Regions from separate parts of the Homo sapiens genome. Here all the other regions are reported to be linked to region 1. Evidence: microRNA targets listed by miRTarBase, many of them from high-throughput screens and not tested one by one. Region 1 holds a microRNA gene; each other region holds the end of a gene's coding sequence.

Region 1 (6,125 bases):
TTTTTCTGGGGGTATGAGAGGAGGCAGAAATAACTGATATTTTTATATTATAGGATGTTTAGCAGCATCCTTAGACTGTATGCTGGATGATGGTCGCACCCTCCAGGTGCCAAGACCAAAAATGTCACCAGACTTTGCCAAAAAACCCTAAGGGGAAAAATTACCTGGGTTCCCAAGAACCAGAAAATACATCATTGTTTTACTTACCATTTACTATTGGTAAGTACCCAGAGTTGTTCTGGGTACTTTTAACTTGTATATTTTTGTCTGGTAGTGATACAAACCATTTCCTCTCTGGTTGAAAATATATGTTCAAAGGTTATGATTTTATTATCCTGTGGGACATTAATGAGCATTTTCTCTAACTCAGCAAACATATTTCATCACACTTTTCCAAACTAACTATACAAATATCTGCTTTTCAAAGTCTCTTTAAAACTGAGTCACCATACTGAGGGTTCTCATCAATGGGTTAAATAAGCTGTGAAATATCCTCACTTGATATTTGTAGGAATCATTTACTTTTCTTAATTTTTAAAAGTATATTTTGACAGCATTCTTCATCTTTAAGAGAAAAATGCATGTCATTCTTACATAAGCCAGAGTTACTAATGTGCCCCGACTGCTCCACCAAAAACAATAAAAGGGTTTTTATTTTTTTGCTTTATAAATGATAAGAATTGCATGTTTGTATATGGAGAGATAATCTATCTAAATTCCATTTAATTACATTAGAAACAAATAGGATTAACTATACAATTACTTTCCCTTGTAAAGGACAAAAGCAACCAGTTCAAAAGAGCTTTGTTTTAATGAAGAAAGAAAATCAGGAAATATACGCCATTATTGCATAATTTAAAAAGTAACCACCATTCCCTAACCCCCGCCACCAACCAATACAGACACACAAATTCATGCAGACATGCACATGAGCTCATGCAGAACTGCAGGTCCATGGCTAATTTCTTCCTAAGGCAGTCACAAAACAGCCACAGGGAGGTCAATAGGAGATATTAGCTTCCACAGTTGGACCTTGTAAATCTCACAATTTTGAAACTGGAGGTGAAGGAAAGGATTGCTCTTTATAGTAATGTAGGACTATGGCATCTAATGTTTTTCCATTACTCACTAATCTCCTTTATAAGAAAGAGAACAGGCCTCTGGCTTAGGCAGACAAAGTGCCTGGCTGGGAATTTATAGCTTAGCTTTTATTTTTCAGGTGTTTACTTCCTAGTTATCTTTTACTTATGACAAATAATTCTGGCCTTTCATTTTCCTTTTAATGAATTTCAAATAAAAAAAGGATAAATAATAGTACAAATGGTAGAAGGATATGAAAAAAACATTATGAATGTGTTGAGTAAACAACGAAAATTTGGGGAACACTCTGCTAGATGAAACTGATATTTGCAATAGAACTCGGTCTATAATTGCTGACCCCAAGCTATCTTTTAATGAATTGTTAAGGACAAACTCCTCCAGGAGGAGGTATAAGGCTAACTAGTAAAAAGTGATCACGAAATTGAGGGTTAAGAGACCTTTATTCAAGCACTGGACATGTCATTAGCTGGCTGTGAAATCTTGAGTGTGTAAACCTGATAAAATACAATTTCATGATTTCTAAAACTCCAAATGAATGATTTCTAAGGGTCCTTTTAACTTTAAAGTGCAGAGATTGGCTACTATGATCCACACTGATCTCTCCCTCATCTATACTCCTATTTTACATAATAGAGTTTAGCACTGATTTATTTTTAATTATTTCATAACTGCCAGTTTTGCCTTTCTATCAAGACTGTAGGATGGCTGAAGAGAGGAATCACCTCAAATCTTTTCTGTAACTTAAAGAATGGTTTATTTAATGCTGTCCAAGTAGTAACACTCAATAACTGTGGGATCACTTGGTAATTGGCCAGCTTTTAGCTTTCAGCAGAAATTTAATTTGTTTTCATAGAAAATAAAGTGGCAACCATATAAATTGTTTAAAACTTGGAGAATTGTTTTAGTTAACTCTCTATTTTGTGAGTAGTTTATTGTATAAGAATGCTATGGTTTGAATGTTTGTGTTGCCCCCAAAATTTGTATATTGAAATCCTAACCTCCAAGTTGATGGCATTAGGAGGGGAGGCCTTTGGGAGGTGATTAAGTCACGGGCACAGACACCTCAAGAATGGAATTAGTGCCACTATAAAAGAGGCCTGAAGGAGTTGCTTGCCCTCTCTATCACGTAAGGACAAAGTGAGAAGATATTATCTAGGAACCATGAAACAGGCCCTCATTGAACAATGAATCTGCTGGTGCCTTGTTCTTAGAAATCCCAGCCTCCAGAGTTGTGAGAAAAAAATTATATAAGCTATCCAATTTATGGTATTGTGTTTGGTTTAGTAGCAGCCTAAAAGTACTAAGTCAAAACACATGGTGATGTATTAAAACTGCTCTAAAATACATAAACTTAAGCTACTAACCAAAACCTAGCAAATTCATAAGAGAATTGATAAAGATGAATTTGGTAAACTTGTAATCTATAAAAAATTATCTAAATAACTAAAGTACTCTAGAACTATGCTCTACAATATAGTAGCCACTGATCACACGCTGCTATATAAATTTAAAAATTTAGTTCATTGGCCATTTTTCAAGTGCCTTGTGGCTAATGTCTGTCAAATTAGTGCAGATTGTAGGTCATTTCTGTCAACACAGAAAAATCTACCAGACAGCACTTCTTTAGAATGTCCAGGGAGAAGCTCTTTCATTGAGATAATTCAAAGAAAACCATGTTTATCCAATGCATTTTCCAAAAAAGGAAAAGCCTTGGCGAAGAATTTGGTTTATTCTTCTCAGAACCTAACAAAATGGGGAAATGTCCTTGATTAATTTTGTGTGTTTATAAATTAAGGTACCTTAAGTGGAACAAAGAAATACCATTTATAAATAGAAAATGTATTACAAATATGAAAGTCAATTAAGGAAATACAAAATAAATCTTTGGAAATGACTTTCATATTTTTCTCACAGCCTACCAAAATCCATGGCCAGGAGATATGTAATATATACTTGGCAGAACTTGCCTTTATAGCTTAATTTTCTGTGCCAAAGATACAGGCCTTCAGAATTCTTGTTGAGAAAATAAAAAGTAATTGTGAAATGGTTCCTCTGGCCTAAGGGATGACAACATACATCAACACCATTATACCCTCCCTACCCACCCACAAAAGTTTTTAAAGAGTATAGAACAAACAAACAAGCAAATACAACCTTAACCAACACCAGCTCAACAGATATAGTCTATAAATTAATTATCAGCAAAGGTACAAAGTATGCAATAAAGTACTTAACAATATACATTTTATTTACCTCAGTTTCTCTACTTCTCTACATCTTACCAGATGGGTTATTTGAAAGAACTCCAATCTCCTACACAAAAAAGCAGGACTCTGGCAGATTGCTAACTAGAGATTTTTGGCCCTATAGGCAAGCATCTGTGAGTGGGGCTGTGTGGGAAACAAAAATATGTTGGAAAAAGAGTTGATAGATGCCCCAGCATAAATGAGGACCCAGCAAAATCCATACTCCTGTCATGGCATCTCTGTCCATCCATTTCTGTTAGTTACCAAGGAACTAGCCCAGAGCAAGGGCAAATGGACCACAATAGCTGGAGAAGTGGGAGAAAAGGAGGTATACCTTGAAGGAGTAAACAGTTTTGGATTTGTACAATGTTTTAAAATCATTAACAGAGACATCAAATCATTAGCTGTCAACCTGGTTCAACTTACTTAGAATACGTGTTTTTTTTTTTTTAATCCCATTGGAACAGAAATGCAATATAATCATGAATTTCATCTCTTATTCTTTATGTCTATAATAAATTTTGTTTTTTCTCTGGAAGTCCTGCATAAACATAAATGGTATTCCCTCTAAATTGCAGTTATTCTCACAGCCTCTGAAACCAAGTATGGGTCGCCTTCCCGTTCTGCACCAGGTCTCACCCACGCTTGATTTCATGGGCCAGGAGAGCACATCTGGCAGATCTAACAGAGGTCTGAAGTCAGGACAGTTAGCTAGAAGGTGATAAAGGAGTAAAGCAAGAGAAGATACAATAAAATCTGTTGTATAAATAACATTTTATGTAAGAACCAGCAAATATAACTCAGGGGAAGACATTTTCAGTGCAATTTTCCATTCGGATTATCTGTACTGTATCCAAGATAATATGTAGCGACAGGTAAACATTCAACAATTCTTTCAAAATCTATTTTGTATATATTTCTTTACTGTCAATTTTCGATCATCTGGAAAATTCAACTATACAGTCTCACCCAGTGTACTTTACACCAATCGTTCTGGACTTAAATGTCTTTCTCCATCATCAAATTGTATTGACAAAGTATGCAGTTCAAGAAAGCCCTTCTAGTTTTTATGAGGTACCAAAAGGAAAATACATAAAATTACAATCTAAGATACCCTGACAACACAAAAATCCACAGAATTCTTTCTTGATACCTAAAACTTCGTATGACAAATTTGGTTTTATAAAATGTAGAGCTTTCAAAAAAAAAGCATACCATAACATTTTAAGAAATTCTAAAGTCTTGAGTAATTTGTTAATTTAGGATCTATAAATTTGTATCACAATTTTCCAACATTAAAAGAAAAATGAAAGCTAAGTAACAGACAAACCATGTTGGCATGATACTTTTAAATTTGCAAAATGCAATTATTGTCCATATAAGATTACCAAATAAAAACAAAATCAGAGTCATAGCATAGCAGAACTGAAAAATACCTCGAAATAAGCTCATAGCCTAATCCCAATAATTTAGAAATGGCAAAACAGGAGTTCTTGACCTTCATTTTAACCTGAGTTTGGAAATGCATCACTAGAGGTTGCAGGAATCAGTGACTTGCGTCAGCTCAATGTGACCAAGCTCTATGCCTCCACATATCCTCCAACAAAAATGAGAAGCTAAGGACATTTCATGACTGATCCTGAGAGTGGCCCAGAAACCTCTTTGCTCCATTGCCTCCCTGCACCTGTTCAGTTCCATTTCTACCTGGTTCCCTGCTCAGCTTCATCTCATTGCCATCAACCCTTGCATCAACACTTAAACTTGGTGTTGCCATTCTGTACCCTAGCTTTACTCTTCAGTGATCTTTTTTTCCTTCCTGAGACAGAAAGACTCATCTTGTCTGGGCCCCCCTATTTACCATAATCACCATGCCTCCCCCTCCCACCTACCTCACGAGCTCAGATCTTGGTGTCCACACGGAGCCTCTCTAGTATGCCAGCCTTGACAGACAGCACCATTGTTAACAATTTCCAGTTCTTTACAAGGTCATTGGATTTAACTCTTCAAAGCACTGTGCTTTAATTTCCGAGTGGCACTTTACCAACATTAACTTCTTTGTGGAAAGTTTTACATCAAGGTAGCATTTGCTCAAAGGGCATGGGCCACATAATAGGGACCTTCCAAGGGACCTTCATTAATGCATAGTGTGGGGTAGAGGAGTGGAACTAGTGATACAACAGATGAAAAGGAACTTTCCAAGTGGGCAATTAAAACAGGGCATTCCAAAGAGAAAGAGAGAAAGAGAAAGAAGGGTGAGCAAGTAAGAAGTATGGAAGATCCAGGAACTCCTGGAAGTTCATTATCACCAGAGAACAGGTAAAAGGGGGGACCTGGTGAGAGATCCAGAAAACTGAGGAAAGATCGGACTTGCAGGGACCATGTTGTCAAAGGCCATGCGTGAGTGCCAGGGAATTTGGATGTTTTCTCGGTAAGTGGTGAGACAGCAGAGGCTAGTTAGAAAGCTGTTGCCATTTTCATGTGAAAAATGAGAGTATAAAATCAGACTTGTGGCAGTGAAGATAAAAACAAACAAACAAACAAAAAACAACAACAACAAAAAACAATGAACACCAATAGAATTTGAGGATTGGATGTTGAGGAAGAATGCACGAGGACTCATGGGTTTCCAGCCCCCTGAACGTGGTGGTTATGACACCATTTACTCAGAGGTAAGGAGAAATCATAAAGAGATTTAAAGAAGGTAGGAAATTAGCTCAATTTTAACCATGGTAAATTTGAAGTAAATAGACTTGAAGATCCTAGATTTTAAAACCAAAA
Region 2 (6,125 bases), not on the chromosome of region 1:
TAACACTTTTTATCATTAAAAATATTTTTTTCAGTTTTTGAGGAAAGCGGGTACATCTATCTTTTAAGAATATACTGCCCCCCGAATAATGAGATTATTCAGCCTTTCACTATGGTGTTTTCTTTTAAGATTGGCAGCTCCAAGGTGAGAATGCCTAAGATGGAAACTTGGCTCTACCCTTATTAGCCGTATGATTGTGAGAAAGTTAATTTCTATAAGCCTCTATTTTGTTCCTGTATGCAGGGACACATACAGTATTTATTTCATAGAGCTGTTGGGAGGATTAAATTAGATAAGGGACTTTTTCTTTTCTTTTTTTTTGAGACAGAGTCTCACTCTTGTTGCCCAGGCTGGAGTGCAGTGACATGATTTCGGCTCACTGCAATCTCTGCCTCCCAGGTTCAAGCAATTCTCCTGCCTCAGGATCCAGAGTAGCTGGGATTACAGGTGCCCGACACTATGCCCCACTAATTTTTTTGTAGTTTTAGTAGAGATGGAGTTTCACTATGTTGGCCAGGCTAGTCTCGAACTCCTGACCTCAGGTGATCCGCCTGCCTCGGCCTCCCAAAGTGCTGGGATTACAGGCATGAGCCACTGTGCCTGGCCTTAGATAATGCACATTTAAATCCCTATGTCAGGGGCTGGGCACCATGGCTCACACCTGTAATCTCAGCACTTTGGGAGGCAAAGGTGGGCCAATTGCTTGATCCCAGGAATTCAAGACCAGCCTGGGCAACCTGGCAAAACTCCGTCTCAACAAAACATTTAAAAAATTAGCCTGGCATGGTGGCATGTGCCTGTACTTGGGAGGCTTAGGTGGGAGGATCACTGGAGCCCGGGAAGTCGAGGTTGCAGTGAGCCATGATTGCACAACTGCACTCCAGCCTGGCTGACAGAGCAAGACCCTGTCTCAAAAAATAAAAATTAAAAAAATAAAGTCATTTGTCGAATTGGATGCTTTTAGTCACAACTCAAAATGGGCTCATCAGTAAAGGAATTCGCTGGCACATAACTGAAAAACAGGTAAGACTTGACTTAGTAGCTCACTGATCTCATCAAGGACAAGTTTTTCCCCTGTTTCCTGTTTTTGCCTCCATGGTGTTGGCTCTATCTTAAGGCAGGCTCTCCTCATTGCAGGATGGCTGCCTGCTGTTTCTATGTGTAAGGCTGATACTTCTGTGTTCATACCCAGATGCACAGAGAGAGGGCTGGAGGAGTGACTTTGTTCCAGAATTTCTAACAAAATTCTGAGATCCACTCTATATTCGATCAACTTATGCAAATGTCCATTTCCAACCAATAACTGTGGCGGGGTTATAGTGCACTGACTGACTTAGCTTAGACCACATGCCTTGGTGCCAAGCTTCCCTGGCACCTTCTAGATCGTTAAATGGAAACAAGCTGTTGGAAAGAAGAGATGGGGACCTGGATGCTGGAGAGGCAAGTAGCAGTGCCTGGTACAAAGTAAGGACACTATTTTTAAATTGTGATTATTAAGGAGACACTATTTATTGACGATCCACAGTATGCGAAGCACTGCACACATGGTGTCATATTTAACCCTCACAACTTTAAAAGGTAGATATTGTTGTATCCTTTAATAGAGGAGGAAACTGAGGCTCAGGAAGAGACATGTGCCCAAATTCAGGAAAGCTAACGTGTGGCAGACCTGAGATTCAAATTGAAGTCTTTTCTCAAATGTTTGCCCTAAGGATTTATTTTTTGGTGCTGAGAAAATGTGTGAACCAGGGAAATTAACAAGAGGATTTGGTGGGAGTGAAGAGGGCAAATGAGATTTGCAAGTGACAGGAGGCTTTCCACTTCTTTAACAGATCATGACAACTGGCCCAAGGGAGCAGGGGACCTTTCTGTTGTCAAAAAGATGAAGGAGACCTTTAAGGAGAAAGCTAAGCTCTGAGCTGAGGAAACAAGGTGTCCTCCATCCCCCAGTGCCTTCACATCTTGAGGATATGCTTCTGTACTTTTTAAAAGCTTATAGTTGGTATGGAAAACATTTTTCTTATTTTTAAGTGTTATTAATTATATCTATGGAAAAACTATTCCTGAAATATATACAGTCTTATGTCCCAATCAGAGTCTTTTAACCTATGATTTAAAAATGTATAAGTAACAGAAATTAACATATTTTAATGACTTTACTTTTTATTTCTAAGAAAAGTATTTGAAAAATGGAATAATTTTAAATCAATGATAATTCTAGGGATCATGAACTCCCAGAAGATTTTATTATTTAATTGTAAAGGTAGAGGCCAGACGCAGTGGCTCACGCCTGTAATTCCAGCACTTTGGGAGGCCGAGGTAGGCGGGTCAGTTGAGGTCAGGAGTTCAAGACCAGGCTGGCCAACATGGTAAAACCCTGTCTCTACTGAAAAACAACAAAAACAAAAACACAAATTAGTCGGGTGTGGTGGCACACACCTGTAGTCCCAGGTACTTGGGAGGCTGAGGCAGGAGGATCGCTTGAACCCAGGAAGCAGAGGTTGCAGTGAGCTGAGATCATGCTACTGCAGTCCAGCCTGGGCTACAGAGTGAGACTGCATCTCAAAAAAAACCCAAAAAACAAAAACAAACAACAACAACAAAATTATAAAGGTAGAAAATAAACCTAAATTGTGTCGTAATTAAGATTATTAAAATTAGAATTATACAATGACTTATTTTTGGTGGCAAATACTTTAGGAGCAATAATGCCTTATGGTAATTATTGATGTATAGTTTCTTTTGTTTATGAAGTCAAATTTGTATAAATTCTCTTAATTCAAAGAAAAAGTTTTATGTGATTTATTTTTGGCAGTGCCTGATTTGTGTCTTGATTTTCTGTCCAAAGTATTCCCTTTTTTCCATGTATCTCCTTTTGTAGGCAAAAACAAAATTTCAGTTGCATGCAAATGTATTAGGGTTCCATATTCTGCCTTCCGTGGCTCCAGTCTGATAGTTAGACCCTTATTGAAGAAATGCCTTTAGCAGATTGAATATGTTCATTCTTTGTCTTAATCAAAGTTCTTTCAAGTATCTGAGGTGAAGTAGCTATTTTCTTTTTTTTATCATTAACACTCACTTTATTTATTTATTTATTTATTTATTTTTAAGATGGAGTCTCACTCTGTCACCCAGGCTGGAGTGCAGTAGCATAATCTCGGCTCACCACAACCTCCACCTCCTGGGTTCAAGTGATTCTGCTGCTTCAGCCTCCTGCGTAGCTGGGATGACAGGTGTGCACCACCACGCCCGGCCAATTTTTGTATTTTTAGTAGAGATGGTGTTTCACCATATTGGCCAGGCTGGTCTTGATCTCCTGACCTTAAGTGATCTGCCCGCTTTGGCCTCCCAAATTGCTGGGATTACAGGTGAGAGCCACCACGCCCGGCCTGTCATTTACCCTCATTTTAAAGTGTGTGAGTTACCAAGCTCTGGGGTTTGGGACCCAGAATCTGCAGCTTTCTCATGCTCCCAAGCAGGGCTAGCACGAGGGAGAGGCTAATGAGGTGCCCAGGGTGCAGCATTTAAGGAGCTATTCTCCATTGTCAGGTTTGTGCCAGTGCAGAATTGCCCCTGAGAGTGAGTGTGTCCTTCAATTTTGTGCTCATACTAATAATGTGGGAAGATCAGAAAGCTTCATTTTCCTCCCAGATAGCCCTTTAACAGTGGCCTTCTGGAACTGATAATATCATAACAACTGAGAATTACAAACCATGTTAGAGGGAAAAGTGGCCCTAATACAGGTTGGTGGAGAAGATGGAAAAGGCAGGGCTTGCTTTCACATGACCTGTGTTAATGACTGCCATCGACTCCTTAAATCTCCATAGCGTTGCCAGTTATTTCTGCTTAAGGGACAGAACCTGCCTATGTAGCACTAAACTTAGGTACAACTGCTTATTAGAGCTTCTTCTTAGACTATCACTGGACAGCTGGTCATTATCTATATTTTTAGAATTATGAATTTATTATCCAGGACTCTTATGTACATCATAATAGTATCCTGTCAATAATGTACTTTTGCAACTACGCTTAGTAAATTTTGTTGTAGAGTGACTGTTCTTGAATAGGCTTAATAATTTGGAGCACCTACTATGTATTTAGCATTATGCTAGGAGTCAGACATGCAATGGTGAAAAAATACACATGTATCTTGTCCTTACTGAGCTTACAGTAGGGAGAGATTGAGAGAAAGAGAGAGAACACGAGTGCTATAAAGGATAAGGCCATGATGTCCACGGCATATAACTGAAAGACAGGAAACAAAATGAAAATTCTATATTTATGTAAAAAGAGTTTGTTGATAAAGATGACCCTTGTGAACATTATACCTCCCCCACACTAATCTTATGCTTTGTGGCTTATGTTCAGGTCCTCTGAAAAGCAGGTGCCCAGACATAATGAGATTTGCATGACACTTATTGGGTACCAGGCCCATGAAGGATAAGGGCAGGGAGCCAGAGAAGGCAGCGATGGCCTTCAGACCATGCTGCAAGGCTGACCCCTGTAAAAGAGAGGGGAGAGAGGATTGGGCAGGAGGCATCTCAGATTGCAGCAAAGTGATGCTTTCTTAAGACAGGCTTGCTGAAAGTATGCATTGACATTTACAGTGGCCCACAGGAATACCAGCAGGCGCTCAGTGGGTCATGTGGATTCTCTACAGTGTAAAAGTAACTCTCTCTCCTCCTGCTGGTGCCTGGACAAAGGGAGTTCAGAGATCAGTTCCAGCATCAGTCATAGTTTGTAGCTCACTGGGACCTTATGTCCCCTGGCAAGAGCCTCCCTCTTTGGCACCAGGATTTCCAGTGCTGCTATTCTCCTTAAATCCTGCAGCAGATCATTGGGAATGATGGAATGCAGGGCCACTCCCAGTTTCATCTACCGGATCCCAGACATGGTCCCAAACCTACTGGGGACATGCATCTTTGAAGACAGCAAGCACTCCATCCTGGCCCTTCAGCTGGGTCTTGGTTGTTCAAGCCCTCTATGAGGCTGGCTGCCTATGGATGGTGCGGGGTGTGGATACACAGTGGTTCCACAACCAGGGGCTCACTCTTTCGTCTCCTTCACTGGGAGGTGAGTCACCTGATTGGATGCTATGCCCCATGGGATTCCATGCCTATGGTTCAGGCTTTCTATAGCCCCCAGATAGTCATGGTGTCTGAGTCCCTGCAGGCAGGAAAGACAAACTCTTGCCTGGAAGAGGTATCTGTCACTATGAGGAGTGACGCAGAAACCACACAGCAATTTGAACAGGGCAAGTTAAAAGTGAAGAGTGATTATCACAGCAGATTGGAGTAGTGAAGGACTGGCTAGTAGGAAGTAAAAAGAACTTGAACATGAGAATAGCAGATATCAGGAGTAGCCTGCACCACTAGGACTAAGACTGAGAGCTCAAAGAAGAACCTTGGCTGGGCGCAGTGACTCATGCCTGGAATCCCGGCACTTTGGGAGGCTGAGGTGGGCAGATCATCTGAGATCAGGAGTTTGAGACCAGCCTGGCCAACATGGTGAAACCCCGTCTCTATGAAAAATACAAAAAATTAGCCGGCCTGGTGGCGGGCGTCTGTAGTCCCAGCTACTAGTGAAGCTAAGGCAGGAGAATCACTTGAACCTGAGGGCGGAGATTGCAGTGAGCCAAGATTGCACCATTGCACTCCAGCCTAGGTGACAGAGTAAGACCCTGTCTCGAAAAAAAAAAAAAAAAGAAGAGCCCTCCATAGCACCCCTGGGGCTGACACCCAGATTGAGTAGGGAGGGCATGGCTGTGAATCAGTGGAGGGCAGAGAAGTCACTGTGGTGCTCTGCTGGTGGAACTTGCTAGAAACCTGCCCTCTGGCATCCTGGGGAAAACTGTACAGAGAAGTGTCCTACCAGAGGCCTCTGATGCAAAACCCCCTGAGGGAGGTGCTGGGAAGCTGGTGCTCCTTAGCACTCCTGTGAAGCAGTCTGCACTGCACGGGTCAGGAAGCAAAACCCTCTTCCTCCTCCAATGTCTCTCCATCACCCTCTCCCAACAAAGCTTCAGAGCCCGCTGGCTCAGGGGAACAACTTAGAGGACCCAGATCCATTTTCTCAGAACAGAGGAGCAATTACATCTGGAGCCTGCCACTTGTCGACTGGCCGTC
Region 3 (6,125 bases), not on the chromosome of region 1:
TTTCAAGATCAAGAATTCTGAGCTAGCTTTAAGTAGCAAACTGATTTATATGTGCAATTATAGGATGCATTAAGATGAATGATAGCCTTTACATATTGAAAACTTTGCAGACGTTTTGTTTTGAAAATGGCATTGTATAGTAAATGCAAATTAATTTTGTAAAATTATGTTAAAGAGTATGTTCAGACACTTTCTGCCATGGCCAAAAAGTATGTATGAAAGTATGTGTGTATTTGTTTGTAAAAGGATGCCAATGTTTTACCTGATATCTTAGTGACACTTCAGTTATCTATGCATTCTTTAGATCTGTGATTCGGTAAACAGGCAGCCATGTTCACGATGCCTTCTATGTCTTACCATATTTTTAATTAACCTGTTAAATACAGCTTAAAATATTTTTATTTTATTTATTCTATTTTTACTGAAATATACTGCATTATTGTGTTAATGTATTATCTTTCCTGGATATTATCTCCCAGTGTATCCAGATCTAAGTAATCTCAGTGAACTATACATTGCCTAAAAAGTGGTTTTGTAATGATTTGTAGTCACATTTCTATTGGGATATGTAGAAGAAAAGGCAAAATGCTTAAAGTTCCTTTTATTTTTTAAAAGCAGCTAGATAGACACAGACTTGCCACCTCATACATCTGCTCCTTGGCAACATCAAGGGGAACGACTAGCCAACATGCCTATGGCTAAAAACTTTCCTTTGCAGACTAAAGCACTGCTTGGTGCTTCGTTTTTCTACCCTTCACAACATGTGTGATTTCATCTAAGAGATATATACATGTACACATGCCCTTTGTTTCCACCTGGATACAAGATCACTCATAGCTAATTAGGACCATTGTTTTTTGTTCATCTGTCTTGTTGCATGAAGGGACATTAGACCCATTTCCATTAAAATAAGTTCTTGGTGATAAACTGTGGCACTGCTACTTCTTTTTAAATCCACTTTATGATTTCAAGATGGACACTTGTAAGATGACTCGACACAAGGCCATTGCCTGGAAGCCCCAGAGCTTTCCTCTGTTTGTATGGCCCGTTCATGTCCCAGGCATTGCAACACAAACTCCTCAAGATTTCACCACAACATGACAAGCATTTTCCTAACTGATATTAGCACAATTTAACTAATAAGCCCCTTCGCTCTCTAGTTGGCCAGGCTTAACCTAATACACATCTAACGTGTGTGCCACACGGCCAGTAGAAAGTTTAACTTCAGCTTCAGGGCAAAGATACCCACTCACACCGTGTCAACGCAAGCAGTAGTTCCTGGCCTCCAGAGCAGCTTACTTCCCCTGAAAGAACGCTTTGTTTTCCTTTATGCCCTTTTCCTGTTGACCACTTTTACACATTTAAATGTAATTTGTTGTGAGAATAAATTTAGCTGCATAAAACGTTCGGCTCATTTATCTGACATCTTAGTCACATATACAAGGAATAGAAATAGAAACTCGGTGTCTCTAGTTATTTTTAAATTATTCTTACCTCAGACTTCTTAGAAATCACTTTAGTAATGGAGCATTTTGCTTTGATTAGTTACTACATATTTCTGCCTGGTAAGAACTAGGAAGTAACTTCAAATTTTGAGTAATCACCCTGTACTTATTTGGTGATCAGGAAGGCCAGCTGGCCTTCCGGACATAGAAGCCTATTTAGTCACCAACTCGAGTCTTTTGTAAGCGGTCTTGCTAGGATTGTGATATTTTAGCACGAAGAAGTTTATCACTTCCTTTAAGAACCTGACATCAAAGAATAAAGAATAGAGGTGTACACACACTAAATCCAAAATGAAAGGTAACTAGAGAAATCAGTTGAATCTGGTTTAGCTTAACTGTTAGGCGCAGGAAGGCAGATAAACAGAATTTAAAGTATGTCCCCGCTTTTTGTTCATCTTGCACTTCCACAGTGGTTTCTCTCTAGTCAGTAACAAAATTTCATTATGGTTTCAGGCATTATATGGTGGTAAATAATTTCAGATTAAAAATGTGTTTGCTATTGGAGTATCTGAATACTAGTAATTTCATTATTTAGAATTTTGCAGCACTTTTATCTCAAGAAGAAGTCCAAGAATGTAAAATGCCAAATGAAACATGTCAGTGGAATCAATATTCTCCTTCATTAGAATTCCCTCATATTGCTTTTTTTTTTTTTCTTCAGACAGAGGAGTCTTACTCTGGAGTGCAGTGGTGTAATTTCAGCTCACCACAACCTCCACCTCCCAAGTTCAAGCAATTCTCGCCTCAGCCTCCTGAGTAGCTGGGATTACAGGCATGCACCGCCACGCCTGGCCAATTTGTATATTTTTAGTAGAGACAGGGTTTCGCCACGTTGGCCAGGCTGGTCTCGAACTCCTGACCTCAGGTGATCCGCCCGCCCCAACCTCCCAAAGTATGTGAGCCACCACGTCCGGCCTCATATTGCTTTTATCCAAAATTCTTTTCCCTTTTCACTCTACCAAAGTATTTAAATAATCCTGTCCTTCATAGAAGATTCTCAAAGAAGAAAACTGCAGTGTAATTAATGAATGGTTTAATTCAGAATCTTCATATACTTCTAAAGAGAAAAATAATTTAGTGCCAAATGCATGTTAGGAGATAATCAATGTAAGTGGCAACAAATTGTGACTTCACATGCTACTGTAGAGATCAGAAAATTATCCTAAACTATTCCATAACAATGAGACAACATCACAGAAAATACACTTGAAAATAAAAATCTCAAGACCAGCTACTTCTGGACAATGGAATACTTTTCAGTCTGGTATGGTGGAGGGCCCGAAAAGGATAAGGGATTCTTATGATACACAATGGGATTCTTTACTGAACAATATGTTAAATTAAGCTGCACCGCCTTCCTTGAGGCATGGACTACCCTAACCAACCAGATAGAAATCTGGGTGGGATAAGAGGATGAGCCACACGCTATAATTTTAGGGCAAGGAGATAGTGTTTGATTTTCAAAATCAGCAAAATAAGCTGAGCACTTTATATCTTTCTGTACAAGAGTGATAACATGAAGAATTCTTCTTCAGGGATTTAAAATACAATAAGCCTGGTTCAACTATAAAAAGTCTTGTTTCCTTTCTTCATTGACACTTTTTTTTTTTTTTTTTTTTTTTTGAGGCAAGGTCTCACTCTGCTTCCCAGGCTGGAGTGCAGTGGGGCAATATTGGCTCACTGCAACCTGCACCTCCTGGACTCAAGAGATCCTCGTACCTCAGCCTCCTAAGTAGCTGGGACTACAGGCGTGTCCCACCACACCCAGCTAATTTTTGTATTTTTTGTAGAGATGGGGTTTTGGGGTTTCGCCATGTTGTCCAGGCTCGTCTGGAACTCCGGTGCTCAAGTGGCGTGCCCACCTCAGCCTCCCAAACTGCTGAGATTACAGATGTGAGCCACTGCACCCAGCCCACTGACACGTTTTACTGATAAATGTAAATCTAAGCTAAAATAAAAATAATGTATTACCGCTATAATACAATTCACCATTCTCTTTTCTCACTTCAAGTAAGAAAGTAAAAATAGAATATCAGAGCTGAAGTAGACCTAAGTATTCATCTTGAAGAAGATAATATTCTAAAAATCATGCCACCTGAATTGAGCATTTAGGAATTTATGTAACATTTCTATACAACTGAATTGCAAAAATAAAACTTTAAATTCAAACTTTATGAATATGTCTATGAATGTTTTTAAATAATAAGATATATAGTTGTATCTTAATTCTATTTAATGACAATTTCTGTTGCCATGATGAAAAATCAGTAGACCCAGAAATGATAATCATACCAATTTTTGGTAGGCAATTGAGAATACATTCAAGATGAATCGACATTTAATATAATTAATTAACATAGTGCTACAATATATTTAATTGTGCCTCAGAAATGATTTACCAAAGTTTGATTCCTGTGTGCTATTTGAAATGACTTGTAGATTTTGTTGTATCCCCTGATCTTAGAATCAGAAATTTGTGGGTTTCTTCAACAATAGGTATCGCTTGCATTCAACAGTTTTGCCTCTTCTTCAGAATTATTAATATTTAGATGGAAATTTGCTCACAGTCTTTTGTAACAGTGCTTGACATAGAGGAAGGGAGAGATGATTGTGTCCAGTCTGCTCAGGATCCTGGAAGCTCCCCCAGTGAGAGACACCTCACTGTAAAAGGAACTCTGAGCTACACACACCTGGCACTTGGGAACTTCCTGCGCTTCCTACTTAAACTCAACTTCAGTCACGTTACAAAAACTCATGTTCATTCCCTGTTCAAAGAACAGCTTGATATTTAAGAAAAAATCACCCTTGATCGTGACTGAGAAAGTCACGACTACAACCGCATGGATGCTGAAGAGCGGTCAGCTGGCGGGAGAGGCCAGGATCGTTTGCCTGTTTGGCTTTCTAATGAGCTACCTGCTGAAGGGAGGCAGTGTTTCCTTCCCTGCAGGGGAAACTTGGCAGCTTTAAGTCCAGCCTGAAAGTTCACAGGAGTGAGATAAGTTCTGACCGCTGATACTGAGTCTCTAACTGGATCCTCTCAGAGCAGCAGTGATTGGCTGAAGTCTCTGAATTCTGCTTTGCTGACTCCTACATTATTGTTTCTCACTTGTCTGAATTCTCTGAAAGTAATATCACACTTAGAAGATCCCTAGGTGACCAAAAGAATGAATATCTTGTGTAGAGATGTAGAATCTTCAGAGAAATACTAGACTTTGAAAAAAAATCAACTGCTCTTTGGCCCCTATAAAAAACACAAGACAATCAAAGCCATCGCCGAGGAGGCCTGAGTAGGGAGGAAGGTGTGTCATCTTTAGGCTTTTCCTCTTTTCTGGATAGTGAGTGTGTGGGAAGGCAGGTGGGCACAAGTGCCTTGGGTGCAACCCAACGACAGTACAAATGTTGAGTTGGCATCCGAGATCTGATCCCTTGGGGACTTGAAAATGGCATAAAGACTGGAGGCAGAACAATCTTGATGGGTTTCAGAGCAACCATTCTGTCTTCTGGCCGAGGTCTTAAGAAGTGTGTCTGCCGTTCACGCGGTCTGGAGGGACAAGTGTTCTTCACAAATGCAGGCACTGCAGGATGGGGGGCCAGCTTGTTGGGTTTTCTGGTCTGTGAGGAAGCCCCCACTTGAGCAGTATTTTTCTGGGGAAGAGGTGGTTTTGTTACAGTCTCTGATAGATTAGCACTGGCTTTAGTTTCTCGATTCAGGAACTCAGCAATTTTCATTTGGATGCCATTATCAGTAGTGGCACCTTTTGTCAATGATGTTTTTGATTTTTTCTTCTTCTTCTCCCGTTTTGATGATTTACCCAACTCAATCCCATCCAGCAGACCCTTGGCTGCAGCTCGGGCCAAAACATCATTCACAGACACTGTCTCAGAAGGGTCCCGCTGCAATTAAAGAAGCATTTACTAAATGTGGGAGTTAGCTATTATTGTGTCTCCCGCAAATATTTATCAATGTATCAGTAAAAATAAAAAGACTCTCTTTATTATACTAAAAGAAATAAGAAATAGTTTTTAGGCCTTAGTCCCCAATCTCATAAGCCTCAGCGAATGCCTTTTTAAAAAAACAAACAAAAAAAAAACTTAAACTTCCCCATTTATGAACCTGATACCTGATAGAAAAAAAGAATCACACAGATTTTTTTTTTTTTTTTTTTTTTTTGAGATGGAGTCTTGCTTTGTCGCCCAGGCTGGTGCGATCTCAGCTCACTGCAACCTCCACCTCCCAAGTTCAAGCAGTTCTCCTGCCTCAGCCTTCTGAGTAGCTGGGATTATAGGCATGTGCCACCACACCCAGCTGATTTTTGTATTTTAGTAGAGATGGAGTGAACCATGTTGGCCAGGCTGGTCTCGAACTCCTGACCTCAGGTGATCCACCCACGTCAGCCTCCCAAAGTGCTGGGCTTACAGGCTTGAGCCCCCATGCCTGGCTGCTTATTTCTTACATATGAGGGAAGATGCACTAGATGTTACAAAATGCTTGGGGAGGTGGGGGTGGCAGCCAGGCAGAAGAGGAACACTCGGGGGAAGTATAAAGAACAGGGCTGGCCGGGTGCGGTGGTTCACACCTGTAATCCCAGCACTTTGTGAGGCCGAGGCAAGTGGATCATG
Region 4 (6,125 bases), not on the chromosome of region 1:
ATAAATACTCCAAAAATACTCATTTGGTTAGAAACAAAATATTAATGTCACAGCAACAGTAAATTTATTTCTACATTTTATTGCAGGCTGTACTCTAAAGGCCTGTTGAGGTTAATCAGAACCTAAAAATGCTAGTAACATTTTTTTGTCTGGTACATGCTGAAAAAAAGCTACACAGTTCTACTTATTTCACTTTTTCCTTTGTTTCAGGGCTGTATCTTGTGGTTTTTATGCCATCCAGTTCTTGCATGCATTTCTGTCATTTTTAGCGACTACCAAAGAGACAAGGTAAGAAATATACATGATCAAAGTAGTTTTCTTAATGAAAATATTGTCTTAATTGGGAGAATATTTAAATAGGAGGGACCTATTTATTTTTTAAGACATTTTCTGGGTTATTTAAAACTTTGAAACAAAATAGTAAACCAATAAGCAGATAAATTTGAAGTTTAAAATATTTTTAAAATATTTATAAGCAAAATGGTGGAAATAGCTTTTCTTGATTGTACTACAATAGATAATTTTAAAATAGAAATTTTGTTTTATAAATTAGAGAATTTATAATACATCTTTTAAAAAATGATTAAAATTTTTCTTACATAATAGCAAAAATCAAGATTTGTAAAAATCAGTCTAGTTATTGAACAGACTACAAACCAGAGTGCCATGCTCAAGTATGATGCATTTTGATTGTGTTGATACCTACCTTCTTAGGTGAATGGCTCCATCATTTCAAAATAGAGGTCTGCCAGGAGCCCTTTACAAGCAATGCAGTATGTGCCTGAATGCACAAATGTTTATTGAGCCTGAGGTGTTTACAAAGGGTGAATAGATAGGACAGTAGTCTACAAAAATAGAGAAGCAACTTGAGAATTTTTGAAAGGGCTTTTAGAGTACTCTTTAAAGTTCAGGTAGGAGCGTGCTTTATTCCTGTTCCTAAATTAGCTAGGAACCTGATTTTTCTTATTTACTGAAACTTGTCTGTAGTGCATACCCTTAGGAGAGAATGGTTTAGCAAGTTATTCTTTTGTGCCTTACTTTGTCATCTACAAAATAACTGTTAAAGGGATTTTTATCCTTAAACAATTAGAGTTCTGAGCATTAGTCAGAAAATTTTTTTGATAAAATGTACCTATGGTAAAGATGAAAGATAGAGTATTGTATTTATATAAAAAGCATATATAGATTCATAATAAATTGAATATTATTTCTCTATTTCTGCATGTAGTAAAAGCATTCCTTTCCTTTTCTTTTCAGGTTATTACAATAGGTGTTATCCTTTGCCAGTCTGTTTCCATGGTTATTCTCTACAGACTCTTTCTGTCTCACAGTCTATACTGGGAAGTTTCTTCACTTTCTTCAGTAACACTACCACTGACCATATCATCTGGACACAAAAGTCGCCCTCATTTCTGATACTTGATTTTTGTTGAGAGGAAAAGTGAATTGGTTAAAAGAGTGCAATAAGGATCCAAATACAGTGACTTTTTTTTCATACATTTAGTATGAAAACTTGAACAGCGAAAGCAGAGCATGTTATTTATATAACTGCATTTAAGCAGTACCAAGACTGAAAAAAAAGGTAATAAATGAAATGTTTTGAAATATACTTAAACAACAAACTTTGAAGAAAGTGTTGTTATAAAATTATTGAAGCGATTTCTATGTGGAAATAAATGTGAAAAATAACTATGATATTTTGGTAAAATATTCACCACTTATAATGCCTCATCTTAATAGCTAACTCAGGTTTAATAGTCTTATAAAAAGTAATCAGTTAAATGATTACTTGCTTATAAATATCTAAACTAGTCCAGTTATGAAATCAGTGTAATACATTGATTTTTAAAACTGCTGCTTTTTATGCTTTAAGGAAAATGTATTTCATATTTGAGTTTAAAGGAATTGAAATTACTTCAGGAAATGAATATAAAATAGGTTCACAGTTAAATGAATAAGCTTTTGTTTATTTGTGGGTGGAGTTATTCTCCAATTTTTTCTGCCATTTTTGGCTCTAGTTCAGGTTTTAGCTTGATTAGCAAAGGTTTTTGACAAACAGTTTATGAAAAAATAAAACTTAAATACATTACACGGGTTGTAAGGACAAAGGATTTTAAAATCTGAGCACTTAGGTGAAGGGACAAGCAGGTTTATGTGTTTAAACAGAAAGAAGGGAAAAGGTACTATGTGATATGGTACTGAAATTTTGATCCCAATAGAATTCATTTCTCTTACGTTGAATCCCCAATCATAATTAAGCCGTATACACAGATTAAATTAACAGAAGCATTTCACATAAATGTTGGTTTCAGTCATCAACTACCCATGAATTCCTGCCCAAGGATACTTAATCAGGATTAAATTTTCTATGAATAATTGAAAAACAAAACACTCACTGGATTTGTTATAATCCGTGTTGGCACTGGATTCTAAGTAGTTGCCATCTTGAATCCTTTGTAATAAAGCCATACTTTTGTGTGTGTGTGTGATGCCCCAGTATTGAGTATGCTAGCTAAAAAATATCAAGTGCCTGATTAAAGAATTGCTAAATGGTTGTCAATACTCGCTGTATAAAATGAGTATTCCCATTAATAGTCACTGATTGGAAATTATTCTGTTGCTGTTTGTCAAGCTGTTCAGGCCTTTTCCTTTTTACTTCTGGCTTATTTTAAAAATATTTTTTATCTATTTACTGTGTGTTTAAGCAAGCAACAGTGCACTGATCTGGTAGTTAAATTTTTTAATTAAATAGTTAAAATAATGTAGTGCAACTTAAAAATATCTATGGCTTTGTTTTTGTTTTTCTTTTGTACCTAGTCTCATTGGAAATGACTAGTATTCTGCCTCATTTTCAGGGCAGAATATGTGTTTGTGACCCAAAATGACAAAGTTACCAAGTTCAACCTGCTCATTAAATCATCTCTCTATTAGTTCTTTGTAAATCACTTAGTACATTAGAGCTACAGGTTAAGACTAGAAAGTCTGAGTTATGTTTTAGGTATACATGATCGTCTGAGTGGTCATAACCTTTTCTTTTATCATGTCTCGCTAATAACCCCAGCTATTGTCTGTTGTGTTCAGCTGAGATGCAAAAAAGAAATTAAGCAAAAAAGAAAAAGATGAAGACTTTTCATGAATTTTGTGAACTTGCCAAAAGGGGAAGGGAAAAATCTTTGTGTTACTTCACTCAAAGAACATAAGTAACTGCAATTAACATATATGAAATTTATTACTCTGCTTGCATTTATGAAACTAACCAGTTTTTTAAACTTTAATTCTTAAATTTATGGTTGGAAATGCTGATAATTTATTTTGTTATTTAAGAGCTGTTGTTAAGTGGAGGAAAGTAGTTGTTAATAAATGTATAAAACTGTTCTTGACTAGTAATCAGGGACAAAATTTATAGTTCATAAGTCATGACACAGTATTCGCTCTTTTTCTGAATGTTTACATAGAGATTCATCACTGCAGATTACAGAAAGTTAAGTGTATACTACAAACTCTAATTAAAGATAAAAATCTTTTCTACTTTTCTTTGTCAGATAATGCTTTTTTATGTGTTTTTACATTTTTTGAAAGAAGATAAATGGTTCATCCAGAGCTTTATTAAGAAGCATTTCTTTTCTTCCCTTAAAAAATAGATGCTTATTTTTATTGACATGTGTATAATAAGATGGGTGCCTACTGTGATGCATTTTACCAGGCATTTTACCTTCATTATTACTCATCTCTATTGTGATAACCAGGCTCCCATTTAACTGAGTATAAGAGAGAATAAATGATTTCTCTAAGGTCATCAAACTATTTAGTTTTTCCACTTTACCTTCATGATTTAAGGAACATGTATTAGCTGTGTTTTAGTGAGAATGAATTGCTATCCATCATAATTTTTGCTGTTGATTTGAACATTAAAACTGGAATTGTGCTAAAATCAGAACATGCGCTTGAATATCTGTAAGACCTCAGCACACTTCAGTATTTGAACCTGGCTTTTAACCAGACAGTATTACTAGCAGGAGAGTTAATCTAGGCAGAAGAGCTTGCTTTAGGGTAATTATTTATTATCTCCAGTAAAGTCACATCTGATGAACATAGGAGATACACAAATCTGAGATCATCTCTAAAATAATGAGACTAGAACCTATCTATCAACATGAACATGGGCTCCTTCAGCATGTTTCTTCTAGGAGACTGCACGTTCTTTGGAATTTGGAAATTTGGAATTATCTGTGAAACATTTTCTTAAATAGCTTCTGTGGTATCAAATCATTGAGGTTGTTTTTTGTTTGTTTTGAGAATTGATATGATTGTTAGAAGTAGCCAGATACGAAGAGGTAATACTGTTTTTTATTCCAACATGTATTTGTGAATTGAGACTAAAATAATGAGATTGGTTTTCCTCTGTGATCTGAAAGTAGTGTGGTAGAAGCACCGTAGCTTGATTTCTTGCAATAGCTCTCTAAGTAATATTACCATGTCCACACTTGGGCAGCCTTCTGCACAGCTCCAGGGGCATCATATGTGTTGTGCTGTAGGAGTGCCATGAAGCCTGGAGGTGAGGAAAGAAGTGATCCTGCCCACTAGGGCCATTCTCCACAGTGTAGCCAAAACAATCTCTTAAAAATGGAAATCATCTGGATGATGAGCATACAGAAATTCTTTGTGCTAATCTTGTAATTTTTTTGTAAGTTTGAAATTATTTCAAAAAGTTTAAAAATCATATAAATCAGATCAAACTACTACTTCCCTGACAAAAACCCTCCATGTGCCTCTCATTGCACTTAGGAAAAGAAGTCCTCACTCATTACTATGTTCTGCAAGGCCCATATGATCTGGTTATCTCTTAATTTGTACCACTCTCTCACACACATATCCCAGCCTCATTGTCCTTCATCAAAAAAAGATCTAGCTTATATCACACCCTCAGATACTTGGCACTAGCCATCTTCTCTGCCTGGGACATTCTCTTCCAAATCTTAGCATGGTTGGAAGGCTGAATCCTCATCCTTCAGGTTCTCAGCTGAGATGTCTTTTAGAGAACTCACCATCTGTGGTGGATTTATATGGTGCAGTTTAGTCAACCTGGAGATAGGTTCTGCAGAATTCTCTTCCATGCATAATTTCAGGACAATGTAGGCCATAAGAAATGTTTGATACAAGATATAGAAGGCAGAAGTAAAGTAGCAGCCAGATCTGCATTCTTTTTGTAAGAGGAAGGGCCAGACAAGGCACAAGGCACAAGGCACTGTTGCAGCTTATCCACATTATTGCTTATCTGTTGGCTTCTCTTGGCCTGTGGGACAACAGCCAGGCCCACAGGAACACCAGTTCCTGCCGGAATGGCTCCTTCAGCTTCTCTGGCTCCTGGGCCAGGTGTGCGTTTTACTCTGACAAAGGGTGCCAGCTTCTGCTGGACAACTCCATCATTCACACTGGAGGATTAGAGGCAGGGAGAGACCTGTATGGCTTCCAGTCCATCCTCACAAGTTCCACTCAGTTCCCACAGGTTCTACTCATCCTAGCAAGTTCCTTGCTTCCCCCATTTCCCATGTCTTCCCTTTCCAACTGCCAGACACAAAAGAAACCGCCTCCTATAATCCCTATAATAAGCCCCTTATTTTGAATATTAAGATATGTGTATGTGTATTAGATCCTAGTGGTTCTTTTCTGATCAGACCCTGATTAACCATACCATCCTACCTAATGCTATTCCCCCATCCTAGTTCTATCATATTATCCCTTTTTTTGTTTGTTGTACTTAGCTGGTTTATCTTTGTCATCTCTCAAATTAGAATATAAATTTTAAGTGAGTTTGTCTCTATTGTTCATTGCTGTATGCCTAATACTAGGACACTCCCTGGTGCATACTAGATGCTCAAAAATATTTTTGAGTGAATGAAGGCAATGCTGAAAAAGTTCCAAATCTGTACTTAACAGTGTAGTATTAATTATGTAATAGAAGTACCCGTAGTGACTTCAATAATACCTTGCCTATTCTTTGTTCAATTGCATGGAACTTGGTAGTGTGTAAAAATCTTGACTAGTCAAGTAGTTGTCATAAAACATCAGTTACGAGAGGATTTCTCAAATTCTCACAGAGGCAGTTTCTCTTTATTTTATGTAGT
Region 5 (6,125 bases), not on the chromosome of region 1:
TTAAAATAGAAAAACTTTTTTTTTCATAGCTCTGGAGGTTAGATATCCAAAAATCAAGATGTTGGCAGGGCCAAGCTCCTTCCAAATCCTCTGGGGAGGAGACTTCCTTGCCTCTTTCAGCATCTAGTAGCTCCAGGTATTCCTTAGCTAGTGGCAGCATCACTGCAATCTCTGCCTCGGTCTTCACATGACCATCTTCCATCTGTGTCCAAATTTTCCTGTTCTTACACACACACCAGTTACAGTGGATTAAGGCCCTCCTCCCACCTTCACTGTACATTTAGGGAAATTCTGCCTTCCCTTCAAGAACCTAAAGACCTATCTTTGTTTTTGTTCAGATTTCCATTCTGCCGTGGATTATCTCATTGGCCACAGCCTCTCTCCATCTAAAATATCAGGCTATTGATCTTTAATTCTATGCCTGTTTCACAAGAGCACTGTACAAATTGAAAAGGAGTTAATTTTAAAATATTTAAGATACCTAGGGAGAGGTATCATTAGTGGATTTATTTAATGTTAACTTCAGATTGGTTAGATCAATTAATTTATGCTTCTGAGTTCAAATTTATGTTCTCAACATATTAGATACCTTTTTAACATAGTGACCACAGTCCTCAGCAACATAATTTTTCAGCCTGGAAAAGTAACTTATTATCTTCCTATTTGCTTTTTCTGTTACCAAAATGTTAGTTTAGCACATCTTTGGTATACCAAATGAGGACAACAAGTACAAAACATTCAGCATATTTTTAAGTTATCAGGGATAAGGATAACTCTTTGTTTCTTGGCATTTCTATGATTATTTTTTCCTGTTGCCATGAGTAAACTTATTTGACTTTGTCTTTCATGTAGTATTCATTATCAAATAGTACTCAATCAAAATATTCCAGATTTTTCATATTGGTCTTCATGATACACCAACAAGTCTTTCTATAGGATATTTTCCATAGCTTTGGCAATAATGTACCCAGTACCATATATTAAAAGATCATATTTGGCAAGTTTTCTTTCTCTGGGGTAAGTACTGAACCTAACCTAAGTCATATATATGACTTACTTTCACATGCCCAAGCCAAAATGCCAGCAAGAGTGAGAATTAGTATAGAACATTCCTCCTCAGGCATAATTAGAACGAGGCCACAACTTATTTCACAAAATGGTAAGCATATGTCAATGCTTAAAATAATAACCCTCCATCTCCCGCTTCTTGATTTCTCAGTGTAAACTTGTGGGGAGCTTATGAATATAACATAACTTTTTTTTTTTTTTGCCATCCTGGAACTTTATGTCAGCCTTAAGCCAGAAGAAGAGAAATGAAATGTTAATTTTTAATCTAAAACATTTTCCTACTGTTTTCCATAGGTTTATCCTCAGTAAAGAAAGTCCATCCGTAGAAGTACACACTAACAGAGAGAGACAACAGGCAACGAGGGAGCGTGGCTGAGGACCCTCTTCTTTGTTTATACTGAGGCTTGTTTCTGCCACAAAGGCACATCATCTACCCTGTTATTTGTGCCTGGTCATGTTTTCCTTTGGTATGAATACAGGAAAAGGCTTCTGACAGCTAAGATCCTGATCAAATTGGAGGAGCCAGTTATTATACAACCAAATACAACTTCCAGTTTCCTTGAAATGAGACTTGGCAGATGGATGATGCACGACTCCCTGAAAATCTCTTCAGCATATTGCTGTTGGATGCACAAAAATGATTCTATGATTTAGGCAACTCAGTGTTTGCTGCAGGGATATTGTATGTTGATTTAAAGTGCATATGTGTGTGTGTGTGTGTGTGTGTGTGTGTGTGTGTGTGTTTCCTGGGGTAAAAATTTCTGCAGTTGTAAACGTTTAACATTGCTCCCATTCTTCTTCCACAGGGCCTTAGTTCTTTAGCTATTTGACTACATATTGTTGACCTCAGTGATCCTAAACGTAGAATTGAAGAGGTGTATATACCTCATTAAATTAAATAAGTGGTTCAATCTGAATAAGATGGTTAATTGGAAGCTATTCCTTAGACAGATCATTTCTTTAAGATGATGAGAAATTGTGCGCCTGCATCACAAGACTTGATTATGAAAGATAAAGTCTTGGGCTGGGTGCAGTGGCTCATGCCTATAATCCCAGCACTTTGGGAGGCTGAGGCAGGTGGATTGCTTTGAGGCCAGGAGTTCTAGACCAGCCTGGCCAGCATGGTGAAACCCCATCTCTACTATAAATACAAAAATTAGCCAGGCTCGTGGCACACACCTATAAACCCAGCTACTCAGGAGGCTTGAGGCGGGAGGATCACTTGAGCCCAGGGAGGCAGAGGTTGCTGTAAGTTGAGATCGCCACTGCACTCCAGCCTGGGAAATAGAGTGAGCAAGACTCAGTGCCCCCTACCCACCCACTCCACACCACCAAAAAAAAAAAAAAAAAAAAAAGGAAGACAAAGTCCTGATGGGATGATGATGGCTATATGGCTATGCTGTGTCCATATATACTTACAGAAATATTTCAGACATATGGATTTATAGTTAAATCTGTGTTTTTCCTTCCCTTGGATTTGATTAATTTTAATGAAAAACTTAATTCTGACTTCTCAAGCCAATTAAAATGAAAATGGAATTTATTGAAATTTTATTGCAATTAAATCTTATAGTGACATGACAGATGTCTAAAGATTAAGCAGATTTAGAAGTATTAAGTTTATCCATTTAATAAGAATTCTGCTAGGACTAACTTGAGATCCTCTTCGTGATCCTCTGTATACATATATACATATATATGTGTGTGTATATATGTATATTCTCACAAATATGATCTCAAATTATACATTTATATGTATATACATATATATATATATACATATAACAAGAAATGTGAGATCCTTGGATATCTATGCTTCTAGAAGTAAACCTAAAGCAACTGCAAAGCTGAAAATGCAGTTGAAGAAAACAATCCAAACATACTGCTAAAATTATCCAGTTTCAGCTTCCAAAAATTATGCTACTTTATTCCAGCTCAAATTATTATTATTCCAGTATCTGGATACACCTGAAGCTCTGTATAATGGGAAGATGAAAGAGCCTTAGGAAAATAAATATTTTCAGGTTCAGCCCTTTGCAACCCTGGAACATAATTCTTGACAAAGAATTATCCTTGTCTTACATTAATTTTCTGAATCTTGTTTCTGTTACTCTTTATCAAAGAGACAAATCATTCTTGGATATTACTTCAGTATAAGTATAAGCGTAAGTATAAGTCAGCTGCTGACTTGTTAACTGTTGTTTTCCTGATTCACCTATACTGAAGTAATACCCAGGAATGGAAACATTTTGGCATTTCAGATTAGTGAAAAAGTCATTGTGATGTCAATTTCTTGTGGTGGATTTAATTTGCCAACTGAGGTACGCCCACTGGGATAAAAACTGAACGAACACCCAAGAAAGTACTCCTTGAGAGGCCAGGCCCAGGCCTATTTAGCAGCAGGCAAATGTGATTTAACTCTCCAGTCCAAAGTCATCCTCTTACTAATTAGCAAGTTGCCAAACGTTGGCAAGATTGTGGAAATGCTAATGTAATGGGAGAAAACCCAATTTAAGTGAGACCTAATTTAATTTGAACTCCAGTGGGGGACTACAAATGTGGAAAGAGGAGCCCTTGCTCAGGGCAACTGCCGTTCCCAAAAGATGGATTTCACAACCCTGTCCTGAGAGTGACCCAGCCTCTCCTGTGTCCCTCTACCCACACCATTTGTTTGGGGACTTTTCTGCTTCAACTCATTATAAGAGTTATACCCTGAGCTGTGACTCTTACTTCATTATTAATAATACACAACTTGTGGAAATTGTGTGAAGAATAGCTATGTCCCTTTGAAAGGAGAGGAAGTCACGTGATCTGTTCTTAGGAAATGTAAAACTAAGCGTATTTTAGGTTGTTGGTAATCATGAAGATTTTGATCTTTGATTGAAGGTCTCACATGAAGAGAAAGTTGTCTTTACTTTGTCTTGGTTGTGATATGGTTAGGTGAAAGCCTTCCTTCAGGGTCTGGTTAGAACTGGGAGTTAGGCCAGCCTCTACTTCTCTTTGCTATGTTTTGTTTTGGGCTCCACTTTTCTCACCAACAAAAAGAATATTTTGGACTATATTGCTAGCATTATTGAGCATGAACTAACTTGTAGATGATCTCCCTTAGTTTATTTACTGAGCTTTCTCACCCAGCAGGAGAGGTATAAATACCGCCTTGATGATTAATCAAGAACACAGAGAGATTCAGTAATTTCCCTAGGTTCTTATGGCAAGTAAATGGTAGAGCCAAGATTCAAAACTGTCTTGAACCTGGGAGCACCCAGTTTTTGGCGTGCTACAATTCTGCTTTGTAGATTACCTTGGAAAGCTCAACTTATTTTTATGATTCTTTTGGGTTATCATCAAGTAGCATTACAGGAGCACACTTCTTAGGAGAAAATATTTTGATTAAAAATACTATAAATTGAATGGGAATTGTAAGTTGCCTCCTGAATTAAGAGAAGTAGTATCTCATTTGCGCTACTACGTGGGAAAATAAAAGTGTATACTAATGTTAAAATGCACTAAAATAATGCAAGCATGGGCATAAATGATGCCTTCATGTGTCAACACTTTTTTTTTTATTATACTTTAAGTTTTAGGGTACATGTGCACAATGTGCAGGTTAGTGACATATGTATACATGTGCCATGCTGCTGTGCTGCGCCCATTAACTCGTCATTTAGCATTAGGTATATCTCCTAAAGCTATCCCTCCCCCCTCCCCCCACCCCACAACAGGCCCTGGTGTGTGATGTTCCCCTTCCTGTGTCCATGTGTTCTCATTGTTCAATTCCCACCTATGAGTGAGAATATGCAGTGTTTGGTTTTTTGTTCTTGCGATAGTTTACTGAGAATGATGATTTCCAATTTCATCCATGTCCCTACAAAGGACATGAACTCATCATTTTTTATGGCTGCATAGTATTCCATGGTGTATATGTGCCACATTTTCTTAATCCAGTCTATCATTGTTGGACATTTGGGTTGGTTCCAAGTCTTTGCTATTGTGAATAGTGCCGCAATAAACATACATGTGCATGTGTCTTTATAGCAGCATGATTTATAGTCCTTTGGGTATATACCCAGTAATGGGATGGCTAGGTCAAATGGTATTTCTAGTTCTAGACCCCTGAGGAATCACCACACTGACTTCCACAATGGTTGAACTAGTTTACAGTCCCGCCAACAGTGTAAAAGTGTTCCTATTTCTCCACATCCTCTCCAGCACCTGTTGTTTCCAGACTTTTTAATGATTGCCATTCTAGCTGGTGTGAGATGGTATCTCACTGTGGTTTTGATTTGCATTTCTTTGATGGCCAGTGATGGTGAGCGTTTTTTCATGAGTTTTTTGGCTGCATAAATGTCTTCTTTTGAGAAGTGTCTGTTCATGTCCTTCACCCACTTTTTGATGGGGTTGTTTGTTTTTTTCTTGTAAATTTGTTTGAGTTCATTGTAGATTCTGGATATTAGCCCTTTGCCAGATGAGTATGTTGCGAAAATTTTCTCCCATTTTGTAGGTTGCCTGTTCACTCTGATGGTAGTTTCTTTTGCTGTGCAGAAGGCTCTTTAGTTTAATTAGATCCCATTTGTCCATTTTGGCTTTTGTTGCCATTGCTTTTGGTGTTTTAGACATGAAGTCCTTGCCCATGCCTATGTCCTGAATGGTAATGCCTAGGTTTTCTTCTAGGGTTTTTACGGTGTTAGGTCTAATATGTAAGTCTTTAATCCATCTTGAATTAATTTTTGTATAAGGTGTAAGGAAGGCATCCAGTTTCAGCTTTCTACATATGGCTAGCCAGTTTTCCCAGCACCATTTATTAAATAGGGAATCCTTTCCCCATTGCTTGTTTTTCTCAGGTTTGTCAAAGATCAGATAGTTGTAGATATGCGGCATTATTTCTGAGGCCTCTGTTCTGTTCCATTGATCTATATCTCTGTTTTGGTACCAGTATCAAGCCAAAAGAACAAAGCTGGAGGCATCACACTACCCGACTTCAAACTATACTACAAGGCTACTGTGTCAACACTTTTAATGTGGCTAAGTCGCTAATAGAATCAAATCTAAAAGACATA

The links. Region 1 holds the annotated microRNA hsa-miR-551b-5p (GAAAUCAAGCGUGGGUGAGACC, at 3,979-4,000, opposite strand). A microRNA usually pairs through its seed, bases 2 to 8, with sites in the 3' UTR of a target mRNA and lowers its output. Matches are read on the target gene's strand: a 7mer-m8 pairs with bases 2 to 8, a 7mer-A1 pairs with bases 2 to 7 and ends in A, and an 8mer does both.
Region 2: the mRNA of PECR is a reported target of hsa-miR-551b-5p. Seed matches in the 3' UTR shown: 7mer-A1 at 2,110-2,116 and 7mer-A1 at 2,799-2,805.
Region 3: the mRNA of NSUN7 is a reported target of hsa-miR-551b-5p. Seed matches in the 3' UTR shown: 7mer-m8 at 4,726-4,732.
Region 4: miRTarBase lists GPR180 as a target of hsa-miR-551b-5p. Seed matches in the 3' UTR shown: 7mer-m8 at 1,420-1,426, 7mer-m8 at 1,839-1,845, 7mer-A1 at 3,829-3,835, 7mer-m8 at 3,897-3,903 and 7mer-m8 at 4,439-4,445.
Region 5: the mRNA of TNIP3 is a reported target of hsa-miR-551b-5p. Seed matches in the 3' UTR shown: 7mer-A1 at 1,715-1,721 and 8mer at 1,756-1,763.

The regions. Positions count from the first base shown.
Region 1 is chr3:168,549,750-168,555,874 of GRCh38, reverse strand. MIR551B (microRNA 551b) reads right to left here and starts at 4,021; the gene lies at 3,926-4,021. It also overlaps the pseudogene EGFEM1P.
Region 2 is chr2:216,035,068-216,041,192 of GRCh38, reverse strand. It overlaps PECR (peroxisomal trans-2-enoyl-CoA reductase), which reads left to right. Exons shown (of 8, transcript NM_018441.6): 8 at 1,833-2,805. The coding sequence ends at 1,918. Among named protein-coding and RNA genes, the nearest start is that of MREG, 25 kb to the right of the region's middle.
Region 3 is chr4:40,807,581-40,813,705 of GRCh38, reverse strand. NSUN7 (NOP2/Sun RNA methyltransferase family member 7) reads right to left here. Exons shown (of 12, transcript NM_024677.6): 12 at 2,522-5,399. The coding sequence ends at 4,767. APBB2 (amyloid beta precursor protein binding family B member 2) reads left to right here. Exons shown (of 18, transcript NM_004307.2): 18 at 1-3,679. Among named protein-coding and RNA genes, the nearest start is that of NSUN7, 61 kb to the right of the region's middle. RefSeq lists an enhancer at 5,540-6,040.
Region 4 is chr13:94,625,756-94,631,880 of GRCh38, forward strand. GPR180 (G protein-coupled receptor 180) reads left to right here. Exons shown (of 9, transcript NM_180989.6): 8 at 211-288; 9 at 1,258-6,125. The coding sequence ends at 1,416. Among named protein-coding and RNA genes, the nearest start is that of GPR180, 27 kb to the left of the region's middle.
Region 5 is chr4:121,127,900-121,134,024 of GRCh38, reverse strand. TNIP3 (TNFAIP3 interacting protein 3) reads left to right here. Exons shown (of 11, transcript NM_024873.6): 11 at 1,363-2,617. The coding sequence ends at 1,394. Among named protein-coding and RNA genes, the nearest start is that of TNIP3, 33 kb to the left of the region's middle.